Regions from separate parts of the Homo sapiens genome. Here region 2 is linked to region 1. The links come from fine-mapping of genetic effects on gene expression. A gene starts in region 1. The other region holds a variant in brackets. All regions are shown on one strand. Distances are between the middles of the regions.

Region 1 (8,701 bases):
TCCCGTGTAGCTGAGATCACAGGCATGTGTCAACATGCCTAGCTAATTTTTTGTATTTTTAGTAGAGATGGGGTTTCACCGTGTTGGCCAGGATGGTCTCTATCTCCTGACCTCGTGATCCACCCGCCTCGGCCTCCCAAAGTGCTCGGATTACAGGTGTGAGCCACCGTGCCTGGCCTAAAATTTTTTTCAAGGTCGTTCACAGAGCAGGGGCATCACATGAAGGCACTGGTGTGGGGAGCAGCAGGACATGTCGGCAGAGGTGCCCGGTGTGGAAAGAGACCTCGGGGGCCCTCCCAGGGCTCTGAACCAGGCAGGTCCTGACCCCAGGGACCCCTTGCGGCCCCGGGAGCCACGTGCTCCCCTGCAGTCCAGCAGGGCCAACTGCAGACTCCCTCTGGACTCTGCCACAGCCCCCTTGGGAGCCAGGGGCCCCTCAATCAGCCAGCAGGCCCACGTCAGGCAGCTGCCTCCAGTTCACCCCATCCTGCCACCAGCTGGGGCTGGCTTAGGCTCAGGGGACATAAACCCCCCCTTGTCATTCTGCACATGCAGCTGGGGGAGCCCTCCCTCTGTGCTCCCTGGGAAAACCGAATGGGTCCGGAGGATCAGGATTTCCAGGTAAGGGTTGGGGGAGAGGGTCAGGTACCCCCAAAACCTCAGGGCGGGAAATGCCTTAGGGTGCACAGCCCGGCTTCCCGCTGGCCAAACCTCCACCCTGCAGGTCAGGTGGAGGTAGCAGGAGGGGACACCAAGGTCGCAGGTCCCCAAGTTCGTGTCGCCCCCACCTCCTCTACCACTCGCCACAACAGTGCTGACCAGGGAGAGGCTCCTGACTCAGGCAGCTGCACCAGCACGGCCCTCTGAGGGCCTGCCCCTCCTGGTTCCTTCCAGTACCTGCAGAGCCAGACCACAGCCTCCCTTGCCCTGCTCTGAAGAATGTTCGAGAAGGGCAGGAATGTGCAATGGAGAGGGAATGGGCATCATCCGGCTGCACCCCTGGATGCCCCCAGCTACACCAGACCCTCTACCAGAGGAAAGAAAGACACAGAATACGGCCAGGGGAGGTGGCTCACGCCTGTAATCCCAACACTTTGGCAGGTTGAGGCAGGTGGGTCACCTGAGGTCAGGAGTTCAAGCCCAGCCTGGCCAACATGGTGAAACCCCTTCTCTACTAAAATACAATTAGCCATACATGATAGCGGGGTGCCTGTAATCCCAGCTACTCAGGAGGCTGAGACAGGACAATCACTTGAACTCTGGAGGTGGAGGTTGTAGTGAGTCCAGATCGTGCCACTGCACTCCAGCCTGGGTGACTGAGCAAGACTCCGTCTCAAAAAAAGAAAAGAAAAAAAAACACAAAACACAGAATTGAACCTCGCTCTCTGCAGCTCACCGGGGGACGGGCACAGCCAGAGTCAATGCCCACGGCTCATCCGAGGTCTCAGGGGCAGCAAGGGCAGGGGTGACAGGATCAGGATCCCCAAAGAGAACACCAGTCCTCAAAGCAAAGATACACACACACAGCCTGGCCCAGACTTTACTCGCTCCCGGCCCCACGGGCACAAGGAACACTGCCGCAAACGTCGGGGCCCAGCCTGAGAGGAGCCTCTGGGCGGCCCAGGCCTCCTGGGGATCCCTGCCAAGCTGGCCCCGGGCTGGAAGGTGCATGGGCAGCACACGAAACCAGGATCCACCCACTGCCCACCGGTGGCCCTCACAGCTCCCCGGGATCTGTGTCCTCAGTGCAAAGGGCCTGGCAGGGAAAGCTGGGCCTGTTGGTCAGGCATGGAGGAGCTGTGTGGTCACTGGCCACTGGCTCTCTTCTGCACCACCGCCGGCTCTGACAGTGCCTGCTGCTGCAGCTGCTGGATCAGCTCCGCCACATAGATCTTGAACAGGGGTACAGGGTCCTGAAGGAGAGAGGGGCTCATGGTGAGGCCAGGGAAGCCCAGGGCAGCTGGAGTTCCGACGGGGATGGGATCAGCAGCTGCCGCCCAGAGGAACCGGGGCATGAGAGGCCCTGGAGGGCAGAGTCCTGTCGGTGAGATGAGGAACCCCCTCCCTTGGGGATGCCGGAGGCACACACATACCCCTGTCCCATCCCTGTGGTCATGGATAAACAGAGGGAATAGGGGCAGCCAGCTGCCATGCCATCAGGGGCTCCCTGTCCTGACAGCTACCTCAGGCTCCAGACCCTGGGATGCTGGTGGCCGAGCAAACCCTCAGTGCAGGAACCCACTCCTCCTACTGAGGGTCCTGGGACAGAACAGGGTGGGGACTTGGAGGGGAGGGAGCGGGCCATGCTCCTCTGGGTGGGCAATGCAGAGCAGCAGCTCTTCCCCAAGCCCACCCAGTGCACCAGCCCCTTGTGCAGGCTCTCTCCAAGGCAGCACACTCCCAGACCCTGAACACCAGGCTCTGGGCAGGCAGCATCGGCTGGTGCTCACACACTCACCTTCTCCTCCAAAAGTCTCTGCTTCTCAATGGCCTCCTCCAGCGTGAGGCCCACCCACTCTGCCTCCTCCTCTGGGATGGCAAATTCCTAGGCAGGCAGAGATGGAAAGGGCAGTGAGGCCCAGGGCCGGGCCACGAGTCCCCAGGTGTAGGGAGCGGGACGGAAACCCTCACCTTGTACTTGTCGTAGATGGCTGCCCGCCGCTCGGGGTCCTCGGGGTGCAGCTGGGGGTCCTGCCGGGCAAGCCGCAGCAGCATCCCTCGCTTCAGGTCCATCCCAAACTTGGAGCACAGGTCCTCCTTCGGGGTCTGGCAGAAGGCTCACATGGGGCCAGGTGCTGGTGGCAGGGCCCCACCTACCCTTCCAGCCAACCCACCTGGCTCCTCTCTAGCCGCTGGTGGTCCCAGGACAGGACAGAGAAGGCCCGGGTGGGGCCGCCTCAGCACCCCAGCCTGGGGGGTGGGATCAGCACAGAAGCAAGTCCAAGTGCAGGGAAAGGGGCGGCTGTGCTCGCTCAGGCCCCACGGGCAAGTCAGCCACCCACAGAGCGACAGCCTCTCCTGAAGGCAGGAAACCCCACTGGTGCTGGCCAGAAAGGGGCATGGCCCCACTCACGCTTTCCCAGTGACCCTCCTGTGCAGATGTCAGCGTGCCCCGGTGTGATGCTGACCTGGGGCTCCCGTGAGTCTGACTGGCCCATCCCAGACCCTGTGTGCACTGACTCGCCCCACCCCGCTTGCCTTGAGGATGTAAAAGTCGAGCCCATAAGCCTCATCGATGAGGTCCAGGGTCCGCATGGTCACAGTCACTGTGAACTTCTTGTCCAGGATCTCACTGTAGAACTCTCGCTCAAACAGCTGTGGCTTCCACACTTTCTTCAGCCTCTTGGAGAGCTGAGGGTGCAACAGAGCCTCCATGAGTACTGCTGCTTTCTCTTACATACCAAGGGGGGCCCAGGCAACTGCCCTCACCTCCCCCCCGGAGGCTCCATCACAGAACCACTGCTGTCAGACTGGGGACCTAGAGCTAACTGGGCCGGCCCCCAGCCCAGTGCCGCCCCAGCCCGACCCGGGTCCTGACTGTGTACCCAGAAGTCAGCTGCTCCCCAACAAGCTGGGCGTTCCCGCCCTGGTCACATGGTTGCTGCATGTGTTTCAGAAACATGTGCGACCCCACAGTTTACAGGTTGTCACATTCCAACCTGGAGGTGACACAAGTCTCCCCACAGGCTTCAGCAGTCCCGCCAGGAAGTCCACCACAAGCAGCCTCGAAGCTCTGCTCGCCTCCCCCACCTGCTCTGCTCGCCTCTCCCACCTGCTCTGCTCATCACACAGGCCTCCTCCCCATCCTAACTTTACCCCGACTCCCCACGGCCTCTGGTTGCTCCCCCGGCCTGAGTCACCCCACCTCACCCCTACTTTATCAGTCCTGTTTGCCAGAACTGCGGTTCTTCACTCAGCGTGCTCCTTTGCCGGAGATGTGTCGCCTCCAGGCTGTAATCCCCAGGGCCCACCCAGGTCTCTCCAGGTACCCCGGGCGTCCGGCACAGAGCCGGCACAGCCAAGCCCTGAGAGGAGCCCCTGAAGGCCGCCTGCGGACCCACCTTGTCGTTGTTGGCATATATTTGGCCCAGGATCCAGCCCTCGCCGCCCCACAACCCCCGCTGGGATTCGGGGGGAAAGTAGATGGGAATGGGCACGTCCTCCACACGCTCCCGCTGCCCGTTCTTGGGGTTGATCTTGAACTTGGCCCCATGAGGCCTATAGTGCACGGGAGTGGGCGTCCGCTCCTCCTCCAGGGAGCGCAGGTAGTGGCCGGGCAGGCGGGAACAGATGCCCTCCCGCAGCTGCAGCCGCTTCCAGAGCCACACGGGATACTTGTGTAGAGGCATCGCGAGCCTGGCGGGAGGTGGGGGCTCGCAGTCAGTCGCAGCCTGGCCAGGCCCCCGGCACTCACCCCCTACCCCGGCCCCCGACTCTCACCCGCTACCCCGGCCCCCGGCTCTCACCCGCTACCCCGGCCCCCGGCTCTCACCCGCTACCCCGGCCCCCGGCTCTCACCCGCTACCCCCTACCCCGGCCCCCGGTTCTCACTCCGGCCCCTGTCCCGCACCCACCTGCCCCTCCCCTTCTGCCCCGGCGCCCCCCCACACCCCACCTGCCCGCGCCCACCTTTCAGGGTTCAGAGCCCACCGGAACCGGAAGCCGATCTGCCGCGCCTGGCCCTCCTCCCACCGCTGACTGGCTGTAAAAGCCATCCGTCTACCCCCTCGTCCCGCCCCGCTTCCGTCTTTAGGGACCGTAAAAAACACCCCACATACAGCAGCAGCAGCTCAAGGCACCGTTAGCTACGTGCGGCCCCGGCGTTTCCGCGAAGGGCGGCACGGGCGGGGCGGTGCTTGTTCTCCCGGGCCCCACTTACCCTACCCGGGAAGGAGCACAGAAAAAATGTAAAAACTCGTTTAGTTTGAAAAATCAATGTAGAATATTAAATTCACCAAACACAGATAGATCAGATCTACATAAAAATATGTCTTAATATCTTAGAATTTTCCTTTACTCCAAAAAACCCCATATATATATGTTTCTCCTTTATAAGCTTAGAGATTGCTTTGGTGGTCAAGTGCAGGGCGGCTGGGGGAGGTAAGACCTTCAGGAAGGCCATATCCCGGACAAGACCCAGAAGGGAAGCCCCCAGAGCCAAGGGTAGGAGGGCCCCACCCGGGTCTCAGCCACTCACTTCTCCAGGGCGGATCCGAGACACTCACAGGCCTCAGGGAGGGGCCAGGTGCTGCTCCTGGTCATTGCTTCCCCCACAAGGTTTGCATGAGGAGCAGAGACAGTCCAGTCTCCTGAACACCCACAGGGCACAGAGCCCAGTGCAGGGGGCAGACACCACCGCAGCTCCTGGGACCAAGAGGAAGCTCCCAGAGGGGGGCCCAGGAACGCTGGGGTGGGTGGACAGGGCTGGGTAGGGGTTCCTTCTGGGCCAAACCCCCAGAGCAGCAGAGCACCCCAGTCCAAGGAAGCTCTTCTCAGGGACCCAAGGCTCCAGAGCCAGGAAAAAGGGAGGGGCGGGGCGGGAGCCTGCATCCCCAGTGCCCATCAGCTCTGGGGGAAACCTCCGTCTCCCGTCCCTATGGTGACCACAGCAGCAGAGGGGGATCCTCCATGCCCCAGGCAGGCTGGCATCAGGGCCACACAGGGGCCAGGAGCAGGGGTCTCGGAGTCCACAGCTCCCGGCCCCAGTGGTGGGCTCAGGGCTCCTGGGCGCCATGGGTCTCACCACAGCCTCGCCAGGGAACAGGACCATAGGGAGTCCTTCTCCCCATCTCTAGCCACCCACAGGCCAGCAGAGCACACAGCCCCACCCTCGCACAGGCACCTGTGGTCTCCAAGTAACCAAGCCCAGGCCCCAGGGGCCACTGCAGACAGCAGCTGGGATCTGCAGAGGGATCTCAGCAGCGAGCAGGCAGCTGGCGAGGAGAGGTGCGTGTGAGGGAGGGGTGGCCCTCTCCTCAGTAGGAGGAAGTAAGAGGGTATCTAGGCCAATTTATTCAGCTGGAAATCAATCTGTCCAGGGCTGGACCAGGCGCCTCCCCCTCGATACAGCTCCTGGCTGAAGAGGTCATCAGAGCAGCAGCTGTCCCCAGGCCAGTGTCACGTCACTGCGTACAGTTCCTCCCGATCGTTCTTGCAGATCTGATAGTGGCAGGGGAATTTCTGCGAGCAGGCCCAGGGCTCGGCGGGCTGGTCAGGTGGCGGCAGCAGCAAGGCTGCGCTCCCGGCCAGCAGGATGTGCCAGATGCTGTGGGTGTAGTAGTAGTTGTCGCTAGTCATCATGGAGGTGTAGATGGCGATGCCCACAGAGGCCATAGAGACGCCGGGCAGGAGGTAGAAGGCCCAGCGCTGCCACGAGGTGGGGTAGCACTGGCGCCGGTGCCCGCAGCGGTAAGCCTGGAGAAAACAGCCACGCAGGTATCAGTGCAGGTGGGGCCGCGGCTGCAGCTCCCAGGGCCCAGATACGGTGGTTACTGGGGGCCTGCCCAGGTCTGGGCAGCAGAACGACAAGGGTGGGCTGCTTCGAGGGGGCTCAAGGCCACTGGTCCTCAGGCCCAGGCCTCAGGGACACAGCCATGCTGGGCCTCTGTGGGTGCCATGGCAACCCCCAGCAGATATGGGCATTCACTGGTTGGAGCAGGACCAGGAACGTGGCTAGAGCAAGGGGCCAGGCTCTCTTCTCCGAGCACCTGGGCAGCAGTGCCAGCCAGCCCGGCTCCTTACCCACATGGAGGCCATGATCACGAAGGCAAAGAGGCAGGGCCCCAGCATGTTCCACATGCCCCTGCGGTCCAGCTGCAAGGACATGGCGATGACCAGTGTACCCAGAAGAAACAGCACCTGCGCAAGACACAGGGATGACTGCAGGGACGTCTCTGAGGGCTCAAGGCCCAGCAGGAGCACGCGTACCCCACGGCCCCACAGCACCTCTGCCTGCCCCCTCGGAGCTGCTGCCACCCTCAGACCAGCTCTGCCAGCCTCTGACTAGCTCTGCCAGCCGGCAGGGACATGCCCCTCCTTCAGCTTCTGTATTGCATCCACAGGTGAATGTGGCCAGGCAGGCATCTCTGGGGGATTAGACGATGCTCACACAAACTGGACAGACGCATATGGCCGCTCTGCACCCACACACTCACTAGCCCCCTGTACCACTGGGTTTCTAGAAGTCCCCCATCAGGGTGGCTTCAGTCTCCCACCCACTGTTCCATGGGGAGGGGCTCCCACCCCCCAGTCTCCATCAGACACCTCTGCCCACAGCCTACAGTTCTCTGCCTATCTGCAGGTTCAGGCCCCGCACTCAGCCCTGCAGGACCCTGGTGCTTCCCAGCCTCCCCTCTGCCCTGGCTGTGGGGCTCCCATGGGCACCCCCTTGGGGCAGTACCCAGCCTGCAGTTCCCAGAGCAGATGGGAGGGCAGAGCATGCAGCTCACAAGCCCAGGGCATGAGTCTCCCCTTGCCAGGGCCAGCTGCCACAGAGAGTCCCCAAAGCATCATTGGCCCCAAGGACCCAGGGAGCATGGGTGGGGGCTTCTCGAAGGCAGGGGGCCTGGCCTCCCCTGCCTACCACCTTCCTTCCTGGCATCCTCCAAACAGCTGGCACTGCCCCCTCACAACTGCCTGCGGGGTCTCAGACCCGCATCTCCGTGTGGCATCACAGAAGACATGAGGTTTCTTTTCTTTTCTTTTGTCACCCAGGCTGGAGTGCAGTGCTGTGACCTCGGCTCACTCCAACGCCTCCAATGCCTGGGATCAAGCGATCCTCCCACCTTAGTCTCCCGAGTGGCTGGGACCACAGGCATGTACCACTACGCTCGGCTAACTTTTCGATTTTTTGTACAGCCCAGGCTGCTCTTGAACCCCTGGCCTCATGGGATCCTCCTGCAAGTGTTGGGATTACAGGTGTGAGCCACCATGCTCGGCCAAGGCATTACAGGTGTGAGCCACCATGCTCGGCCTAGGGATTACAGGTGTGAGCCACCATGCTCGGCCGAGATGTGAGGTTTCCAGGGGCCGTGCCCAACGCCAGGTCCGGCCTCTCCCACGGTACTGCCTTTCGCAGGCTGCACTTGGGGGCCCTGCTCCCCCGGAGCCCACACCCCACGTCGAGGGCCACTCACGTATTTCAGGACTGTCTTGAGCCGTGCCATGCACAGGATGGTGACCCAGATGGCCGCCCCGGAGCCCAAGAAGTCGCAGTACTGCAGCGTGTCGTAGCTGAGGATGCACAGCACCGCCTCCCCGGGCTGGTCGCAGGCGTGGTAGAACTGTGGGGAGGCTCCATGAGCGCGGTCCTGCCCTCCCACCCCACATCCCTGCAGGAGGGGCCAGCCTACCGTGGAGAAGAACATGGTGTAGGCGTAGACGGAGGCCTCCACCAGGAAGAATCGCCGCACTGAGACGGCGATGGGGGCCAGGAACATGAGGTTGCTGAGCGTGAGCAGCAGTGTGGCCGCCCTCTGCTGGGCCACCGTCTGGGCTGTGCTGTTGTCCGTGCAGCTCCACCCACGCCAGCCTGCGGTCACAAAACCCCGACGCGGAGGCTGGGGGCACTGCTGAACCTCAGGGCCCACCCCTCACCCAGGACCCTGCAGAGAAGCCCCTTCCTCACCCAGGAGCAAGCAGGGTAGGCACGGCGGGCGGGGTCCAAGGTCAGGAGGCAGTACCACCCCCCGGGGATACCTGG
Region 2 (8,701 bases), 79 kb before region 1:
GCGGCCAGTTAAGACCCTCGTGGGCAAGAATTTTGAGCAGGTGGCTTTTGACGAAACCAAGAATGTGTTTGTCAAGTTCTGTGAGTGTTGAGGGAGGCAGGGGTGGTGTGGGCTGGGCAGGGGCTGCCCAGATGGCTGTGCTCAACGGCTCCCATCCTAGATGCCCCGTGGTGCACCCACTGCAAGGAGATGGCCCCTGCCTGGGAGGCATTGGCTGAGAAGTACCAAGACCACGAGGACATCATCATTGCTGAGCTGGATGCCACGGCCAACGAGCTGGATGCCTTCGCTGTGCACGGCTTCCCTACTCTCAAGTACTTCCCAGCAGGGCCAGGTCGGAAGGTATGGCGGACAGGTGGCTGGGGAGGAAGCCGGGGTGCCATCTTGCTGGGCATGGGGCTGGGCCCCACGTGTCCTCCAGATCCCCCTGCCTCTTCTCAGGTGATTGAATACAAAAGCACCAGGGACCTGGAGACTTTCTCCAAGTTCCTGGACAACGGGGGCGTGCTGCCCACGGAGGAGCCCCCGGAGGAGCCAGCAGCCCCGTTCCCGGTGGGTGTCCCTAAGCCAGGGCTCCAGGCCTCTGCACAAATCCTCTTTACACAGGGCTGGCAGGGGCGGGGGCAGGGGTAGGCTGGGAGCAGAGCTTCGAGCTGCACTTGTGACCCTTTCTAGGAGCCACCGGCCAACTCCACTATGGGGTCCAAGGAGGAACTGTAGCTGCCCCCGTGTCACCCCCGCCATCACTGCTGGACAGGAGCCACCCCCTTGGGTACCAGAGGGAGCTGTGCATTGTGAATAAAGAGTGAGCTTGGTTCTGGACTCTGTGTGCCTGGTCCCTCAGCAAGGCTGGCCTGATGCAGCTCTGCCCAGCTGGGGGCTCCAGGGCAGGAAGGTGGAGCACGTTCCTGCTCTAGCCCTGCCAGCCTCTGAGTCACAGGTGATCCCCATGCCTGCTGGAGGCCAGTGTGCCCTCCTTTACCACGGGGGCTGAGGCTGGGAGACCTAGGCCAGGCCCCACCCGCAGAAGACACACCACAGCCAGGGCAGGTTCAAAAACAGTTTTATTTCATTATTATCCAAGTACCTTTGAAAAGATAATTAATTGTACAAGTGTCATCGCATGAAAAACAGACTCGGGCAGCCCCTGCTGGCCTAGCCTGAGAAATGTACATATTTACACGGGCCCTCAGAAAGGAGGACCCAGGACTGCACAGCCGGCGGCTGGAGGCAGGTGCAGTGCTCCGTCGCCGATTCACACAGTGGCAGGCAAGAGACAAGCTGTGTTGAAGGCACTCGGTGGCGCGTACAATTGACAGAGGCCCTGCAGGCCTCTGCATCCGGGCCTGGGCCCCACCCAGACCTGGGTACGTGGGCAAATCCCAGAGGGAAAGTAGATCCCAGCACACGTGCCCAAGGGAGGTGCCGGGGGATGGGGGGGGGTCACCTGAAGCTGGCAGCAGGGACCTCGGCTGCCTCACTTGGGCTGGGCCCTCCAAGTATTGCTATGAGGAGTGGTCCAGGCTGCCTCCTTGGGGGCAGGACAGAAGCTTGTGGACCACTTGGAGGGACCCCCTACCTGCCTCTAGACACGGGTAGACCACAGGGATGGGTGGTACACCCAACACTGTTCCCCATCGGGCTCCTGAGTACGAGGTCATCTGCCTGGCCGTGACACCCGTGCCCGCCAAGGGCCTCGCCTGGCACAGCGGCCAGCCCACCAGCCTATCAGTCCACCTTCTCCACTTTGCCGATGATCTTCTCCTCAAAGACGGGCAGGACGGCCTCGTCCTCTCGAACCTCCTCAAACACCACCCCACAGTCAAACTCGTCGCTCACTTTCTTGAAGTAGTATCTGCAGGACGGAGGTGAGGAGGGCAGTGAGCAGGCAGCACCGCAGATGGGAAGGAGGCCTGTGGCAGGGGACGGCGTGTCCACACCCCATCCCGAGGAGCCTCCTGTCCATGCCCCACGGCCCCCACTGCATGTGCGCCCCCTCCCAGGGCAACAGTGAACAGTGCAATGACCACATGTGGGTGAAGTGGGCAGCCATGGGGGGTGAGTTCACTGCCTGCTGGGAGCACCCCACATCCCCCTGGGAGTACCTGCCCCAGCCTCTCAGGAGTTGCAGGGGGGAAGTGGACGGGTGTGGGGTGTCTGCTTCCCAAGGGCTGAGCCCCGTCATGGAGGTGACCCCAACTGGGGCCCTCCCTCAGCACCACATCTGCAGTCATGGGGTGTTTGCACAGTGGCTTGTGGACGGTGGGAACCACCCGCCAGGCTCTGCCAGGCTCTTGGGGTCAGGCCCCCTCTGCTCACCGCCCAGTGCTCACTCGGGAGCCTCCAAGGCTGGCTGCACGCAGGGCCCTGCAGGGCTGAGTGGCCCAGGGCGAATGAACCTTGGTAGGAGGGGGCTTGGCTTTTCAGTCAGGCAAAAGCACATGAGTCCAGAGCCTGGAGACAAGGTCGGCCTAGGGGAGCCTAACACAAGGTTCAGACCATCGTCGTCTAGGGGTCTGGCCTCTGTTTTCCCACCCCGAAGATGAGGGCCCTGGACGGGGGTCCCTTTGGACCCTCTCAGTCCTGTGGGGCCGAAAGCCTGATGCCACCCTCAGCCTAGGGCTTGGAGAAGTGGCTTTAGTTGCAGATGAGGGACATGAGCTGAAATGGCCGGAAGCCCTTTTTCTTCTTTTTTTTTTTTTGGGCGGGGGTAGAGACAGAGTCTCGCTCTGTCACCCAGGCTGGAGAGCAGTGGCGTGATCTCAGCTCACTGCAACCTCTGCCTCCCGAGTTCAAGCAATTCTGCCTCAGCCTCCCAAGTAGCACACCTGGCTAATTTCTTTAGTATTTTTAGTAGAGACGGGGTTTCACCATGTTGCCCAGGCTGGTCTCGAACTGCTGAGCTGAGGCAATCCGCCCACCTCAGCCTCCCAAAGTGCCAGGATTAGGACGTGAGCCACTGTGCCCGGCTGGAAACCCTCTTTTTCATACCGTTGGGCACCCACATACTCGTGCGGGGAGGGGGCACCCCAGCCCTCACACTCACCTGTAGCTGCCCTTTTTGGTCAGCAGCTCCTTGAACTGGCCCAGGGTGACAGCGCGGCCCCTCACCAGGGTGCGGTAGGGGATGGGTTCCCCGCAGAAGTAGTACGCCACAACGATGCTGTCACACGGCTGGGCACTCCCGCCGCCCACCTTCCTCTGCGATCTTGTCCTGGGGAAAGAGATGCAGCGGTGGTACCTGGTTTTGGACTGAGGTCCCACAGGGTCCCTCCTGCTGGCCTCAGGCTGCCAGTGTAAGGCGGGGCAGGCCTGCAGGGGTGAGCAGCACCCCATTCAAACACCTGGGGCCCGCAGCCCCCGCACAGCATCTCAATCTGGGATCTAGTCCGCTAGCAGTGGAGTCGGCTCCGCTCACTGGGAGCACGAAGGTCTCCCTGCTGCCTCACAGCCCCACCCTCGACTGGCCAGGGCCTGGCTGCCAGGTGCACTGCAGCTCCCACCTCTAGGATGGCAGGGCAGGCTGCAGGGCTCCTATCTCAGGAAGACCTACGGCCCCCAAACCTTAAAAACATCTGAAGGGCAGGGATTGGACAAACAGAACTGTGCACGATTTCTGGATAAGCCTGACCCCGCAGCGAAGTTTGTCGGAGGACTGGGGCGGGGGTGGCCAGCAGGCCCTTCAGAGGGGGCAGGGCTGGCACCGTCTCCTGCCCAGGCTGAGCCGGGCCCTCCTCTGACAGGTGCTGTGCTTCCACAGCCGTGCCGGGATGACGGGCGGGGCCTGGTTGCTCTCGCACCCCCCACTCGGCTACCCCGCCGCCACCTGTCCTTCAAGTGACTCCAGAAGCTGCCCCTGGCCCACTGGGGTTCAGCCCTTGGGCCTCCTCCTGGCTGGGTGCACCAGAGGCTTCCAGAGCCAACACCAGGGCAGGAAGGCCTCATGGCCACCTGAGCCATGTGACCATCCTCTTTGCACACCAGGCCCCCAGCCACGTGCGCTCTTAGACGTCCTCCCAGTGCCACATCCTCGGAGCCTCCTGGAGCCAGGCCCATCAGAGAAGAGCCAACACGTGGGGGCTGCCCCAGGGACAGGTGAAGGCTGCCCCAAGACCGCCTACACGATGAGGGCCACAACAAACCTGCATCTGGGGCAAGCCTGGCAAGGCCTGGGGGACCCTTGTTCTCAAGGCCCCTTTTGGGGTGTGCCCCCTCCTCCTGCCACCTTGAGCACATAAAGGCGCCGTCGACACGGCCCATGTGGGATCACATGGTCTGAGCCCTTTCTCA[C/T]GGGTTCAGAGCAGTCAGCATTGTAGGTGGGAGCAGAGCCCCGACTCACTGACTGCACGGGCTGGACAGACACGCATGGCTGAGACCCACACTGCAAGCAGACGCACCCCGGGCACCTCAGCACCTGCAGCCCCGAGCCTGGTCAAGTCAGGCCTGGCAGGGACCGGCCCGTTCCAAGCCGGGTGGAGGCGCAGGCAGGTCTCTGCCCCACAGGAAGCCTGGCCGTGACACCTGTGTGGATGCAGGGGCTGGCTGTGCCCAGGCCTCCAGCCGGGCCTTTTGGTCACTTGTCATCATGCTGGACAGTCAGCGTCTCCTTTGATGGAGACAGGAGAAGGCTCTCGGGCAGCTTCGAGTCTGATGCCACGGGACCCTCTCCTGCCACAGCTGCTTCTGAGCGTGGTACCCGAGCTCAAGCCCCGGGACGGCGGCTCTACGATGGGACCTGGCTTGGGACGCCAGGGCTGGGGTGGGCAGGACCGGGAGGACCCTCAGGACGCACGTACTCTGTCTCGGAGAGCTCCATGTCCGACACGGCTGGTACCACGTGCAGCACCGGCGCGCACGCTGGCCTGACGCAGGCGCGTCCCCGCCGCATAACCTCCTGCACATACCTAGGGAACAACCCGCGTCAAAGGTGGCTGTGCCGGCGGCCACCAGCCCTGGGGAGGGAGCCTCGACCAATGCTGCTGCGCAGGGACGGACGGAGCGTGAAGGGCCCGAACAACCCACCCTGCGCAGGCTCCAGTTTGCAGGGTAGACAAGACACCGAGTCCCCTCCTAGGCCTGCCTTGGTGGTACCCGATACTGCAGCGCGCCCCACATTCATGATCCCGGCACCAACCCCCTGAGTTCCCTGGACCGCACTTTGGGGAGCTTCCGATCAGGGGTGCTGGGATCCCACCACCTCATCCCCTCTGGTGGGATGACATCTCGTCCCGAGAGTCTGTCCTTCAGTCTCTTGGCATGAATTCCCCACCGATAGCGTGGACACTGGCTCTGGGGCGTGCGTGGCAACTCGGTCTGCACCTCAGGGAGGCTGAGGGCCCCCCGGCGCCACAACTGAGGCCATCCTGGGGCAGCACAGCAGCTCCTCTCACGTGGACACCTCCACCGGGGTACACTGGGCGACCTTGATGGTGGTTTCTACTCTGACATCCTGACAGGGCCCAGCACCCAACCTGCCTCTGGGCCTTCACTCCGTCTCCACAGCTTCTCGCAAAAACCCACATCCCCTGGACGGACAAACCCAGCAACTCTGGGTTTCCCCATGGGGGGATGCTGGAGCCCAGCAGCCAAACGGGCGGGAGGGTCGTGTCTCAGAACGGCGGGAGTGGTCCCACGGCTCAGCGGGCATCCCCTGCCATCATGTGGGGCCACGGGTACCAGGGGAAAGCGCAGACGCAACCTGAGAGACCCCTGCTCAGCCCAGCAAGGATGGCTCAGGAAGCCCCGGCAGGAGAGCCCACACACGCCCAGGGCCTCGGACCTGCTGCACACGATGCCCACCACGGCTCATCTGCCAGCCCAGTCACACGCCCCGGCTCCGAGCACCACACTCCAGGCTCCTGCATGGCAGGGGGCTCCAGCTCCTTGTTGGCCGAACACGATCACAGGGTCACAGATGTTTGGTCATAAAGTGGTCACCCTTTGGGTTTGAGGTAACTGTGACCCTTTCTGGCCCCAGAGCTGTCATTAGGCTCACAGCCTGGCAGAAGCTCAGGAACCTTTAATGACTTGAGACCACACAGGCTTTCAGCTGGGAAGGGTCTGAACCCTGATGCTGGTTCGGCAGAATAAGGCCCCTAGCCACAGCCTCCCTGGAGTGGCACAGCCCCAAAGCTGGAGGCCCGGGAGGCGGGCCTGGACCCCAGGCCCCAGGTGACCCAAGGTGGACAGGAGGAGCTGGTGACCTCTGAAGGCAACCATGGCCTCTGTGACCACAGCCCCAGGGCCTGGGTGAGCTATAGGCTCCCAGGACCCTCAAAGAGACACTGATCTGTGGGGAATTCCAATGACCCAGGATGGCCGAGAAAACTGGCCTTATGAGCAAGCTGAAAATGGAGAAGCCAGGTTCTGGCCTGGAGCGAAAATGCTGCCCACACAAAGGGGAGACCTCCCTGCAGCCCAGACAGAAGCCTCCCTGCCCTAGGGAGAGAACAGGGTCTGGCTACGGAGCCCAGAAGACCAAGGAGGGCGCAGTGAGGAGGGCTGTGGGCTGGACGTCCCGGATGAGAGAAGGGCACAGTGAGGAGGGCTGTGGGCTGGACATCCAGGATGACAAGAGGACACAGCGAGGAGGGCTGTGGGCTGGACGTCCAGGACGACACTTCTACATCTGCACGGCTTTCAGAACCACGTAGCTTTCCGACCGTGCAGAGCCACTCAGGGCTCCTGGGACGCAACTGTCAAGAGGCAGCCGCCATGCCTCCAGGACCTCTGCCCTAAAGCCCAGGCTGCCCAGCAGCGAGCAGCCTCTGGCTGGGGACCGGCGTTCCCCACACACTGGGGCCCTGCAGCCTCCCTGCAGACTGGGCTCAGGTTGAGGAGGGACCCCGCCTCCAGAGCAATGAGCGCGGCGGCCTCGGGTGTGTGAAAGCTCCAGCCCCAGCCTCCGTCCACCGCAGGGTGGCCTGCCACGTGGCCCCTCAGTGGTTCTCAGTGGATGGAAGGGCCCAGTATGGCTGGGGGACACCCAGAGGGCCGTTTTTCCCCTGAAGACCTCAGGCCTCGGGGAGCTTCAGCCCCAGGAGTGGTGCTGTGGTAACCCCCAAGACCCACCCCACCCCACGACGCGGCCGTACCTCTGCTTGGAGGGTGCTCGGCTGGCTCTCTTTTCTTCCTCCTCCAGACGTCGGCGCGCCTCCTCCAGCTGGGTTAGGGGGTTGGGAGCTGGGTGGGGTGGCATGGTGGGGTCTTGGATGAAGAGGTGGGAGGGCTGCACGGAGGTCCGGAGCTGAGGGCCGGCCCAGGGGTGCTCAAGGGACAAGGGTCTGGAGTTCTCATGGGGCTGTGGCTTCCTCGTCCCCGAAGACCTTGGGGAACAAGAGAACAAGTTGTGACTGTGGCCGACACCCTGGCCAGGTGGCCTGGTGGGGCTACACTCATCTCACAAGGGCAGCCTCCTTGAGGGATAGGATGGGATGGGGCACTGGGGCCTGGCCACCAAGCCACATGGACGTCCTCCACAGACCACACAATAAAAACATCCCGGCCAGGCATGGTGGCTCACACCTGTAATCCCAGCATTTCGGGAGGCCGAGGCGGGCAGATCACCAGAGGTCGGGAGTTCGAGATCAACCTAACATGGTGAAACCTCATCGCTACTAAATATACAAAATTAGCTGGGCGCCTGTCATCCCTGCTACTCTGGAGGCTGGGGCCCGAGAATGGCTGGAACTGGGGAAGTGGAGGTTACAGTGAGCCGGGATCACGCCACCGCACTCCAGCCTGGGTGACAGAGTGAGGCTCAGTCTCAGGAATAAAAAAGACAACAAAAAACCAACCCTCATTTGCCTGTAATCCCAATACTCTGGGAGGCCAAGGTGGGTGGATCGCCTGAGGTCAGGAGTTCAAGAACAGCCTGGCCAACATGGCAAAACCATGACTCTACTCAAAAAATACAAAAAATTACCCAAGTGTGGTGGTGGATACCAGTAATTCTAGTTACTCGGGAGGCTGAGGCAGGAGAATCGCTTGAACCTGGGAGGCAGAGGTTGCGGTGAGCTGAGATTGCACCACTGCACTCCAGCCTAGGCAAGAGTGAGACTCCATCTCAAAAAAAAAAAAAAAAAAAAAAAATGGCCAGGCGCGGTAATCCCAGCACGCTGGGAGGCCGAGGCGGGTGGATCATCTGAGGTCAGGAGTTCAAGACCAGCCTGGCCAACATGGTGAAACCCTGTTTCTACAAAAATACAAAAAGTTAACTGGGCATAATAGTGGGTGCCTGTAATCCCAGCTACTCAGGTGGGTTAGACAGGAGAACCACTTGAACCTGGGAGGTGGAGGTTGCAGTGCGTTGACACTGGCCTGTTGCACTCCAGCCTGAGCCACAGGAGCGAAACCCCATCTCAAAAAAAAAAAAAAAAAAAAAAAAAGGCCAGGCGCGGTGGCTCACGCCTGTAATCCCAGCACTTTGGGAGGCTGAGGAGGGCGGATCACGAGGTCAAGAGATCGAGACCGTCCTGGCTAACACGGTGAAACCCCACCTCTACTAAAAAAATACAAAAAATTAGCCGGGCGTGGTGGCGGGCGCCTGCAGTCCCAGCTGCTCTTGAGGCTGAGGCAGGAGAATGGCATGAACCCGGGAGGCGAGGCTTGCAGTGAGCTGAGATCAGGCCACTGCACTCCAGCCTGGGCAACAGAGCAAGACTCCGTCTCAAAAAAAAAAAAAAAAAATTCTTTCATGGAG

Evidence for each region. PIP is the estimated chance that this variant, and not a neighbour inherited with it, causes the effect.
Region 2: its variant is fine-mapped to the expression of MRPL28 in testis (GTEx, PIP above 0.99).

Annotation. Positions count from the first base shown.
Region 1 is chr16:365,870-374,570 of GRCh38, forward strand. MRPL28 (mitochondrial ribosomal protein L28) reads right to left here and starts at 4,669. Exons shown (of 6, transcript NM_006428.5): 1 at 4,630-4,669; 2 at 4,062-4,356; 3 at 3,199-3,351; 4 at 2,632-2,766; 5 at 2,459-2,545; 6 at 1,100-1,913. The coding sequence starts at 4,349. The coding sequence ends at 1,806. It overlaps PGAP6 (post-GPI attachment to proteins 6), which reads right to left. Exons shown (of 13, transcript NM_021259.3): 10 at 8,352-8,530; 11 at 8,136-8,282; 12 at 6,742-6,858; 13 at 4,919-6,414. The coding sequence ends at 6,118. RefSeq lists an enhancer at 6,399-6,970.
Region 2 is chr16:286,394-295,094 of GRCh38, forward strand. PDIA2 (protein disulfide isomerase family A member 2) reads left to right here. Exons shown (of 11, transcript NM_006849.4): 8 at 1-80; 9 at 161-342; 10 at 442-552; 11 at 676-822. The coding sequence ends at 720. AXIN1 (axin 1) reads right to left here. Exons shown (of 11, transcript NM_003502.4): 8 at 7,095-7,325; 9 at 4,797-4,904; 10 at 3,047-3,214; 11 at 1,047-1,855. The coding sequence ends at 1,729. Among named protein-coding and RNA genes, the nearest start is that of PDIA2, 7.6 kb to the left of the region's middle. The variant C/T (reference allele first, on the strand shown) is at 4,291.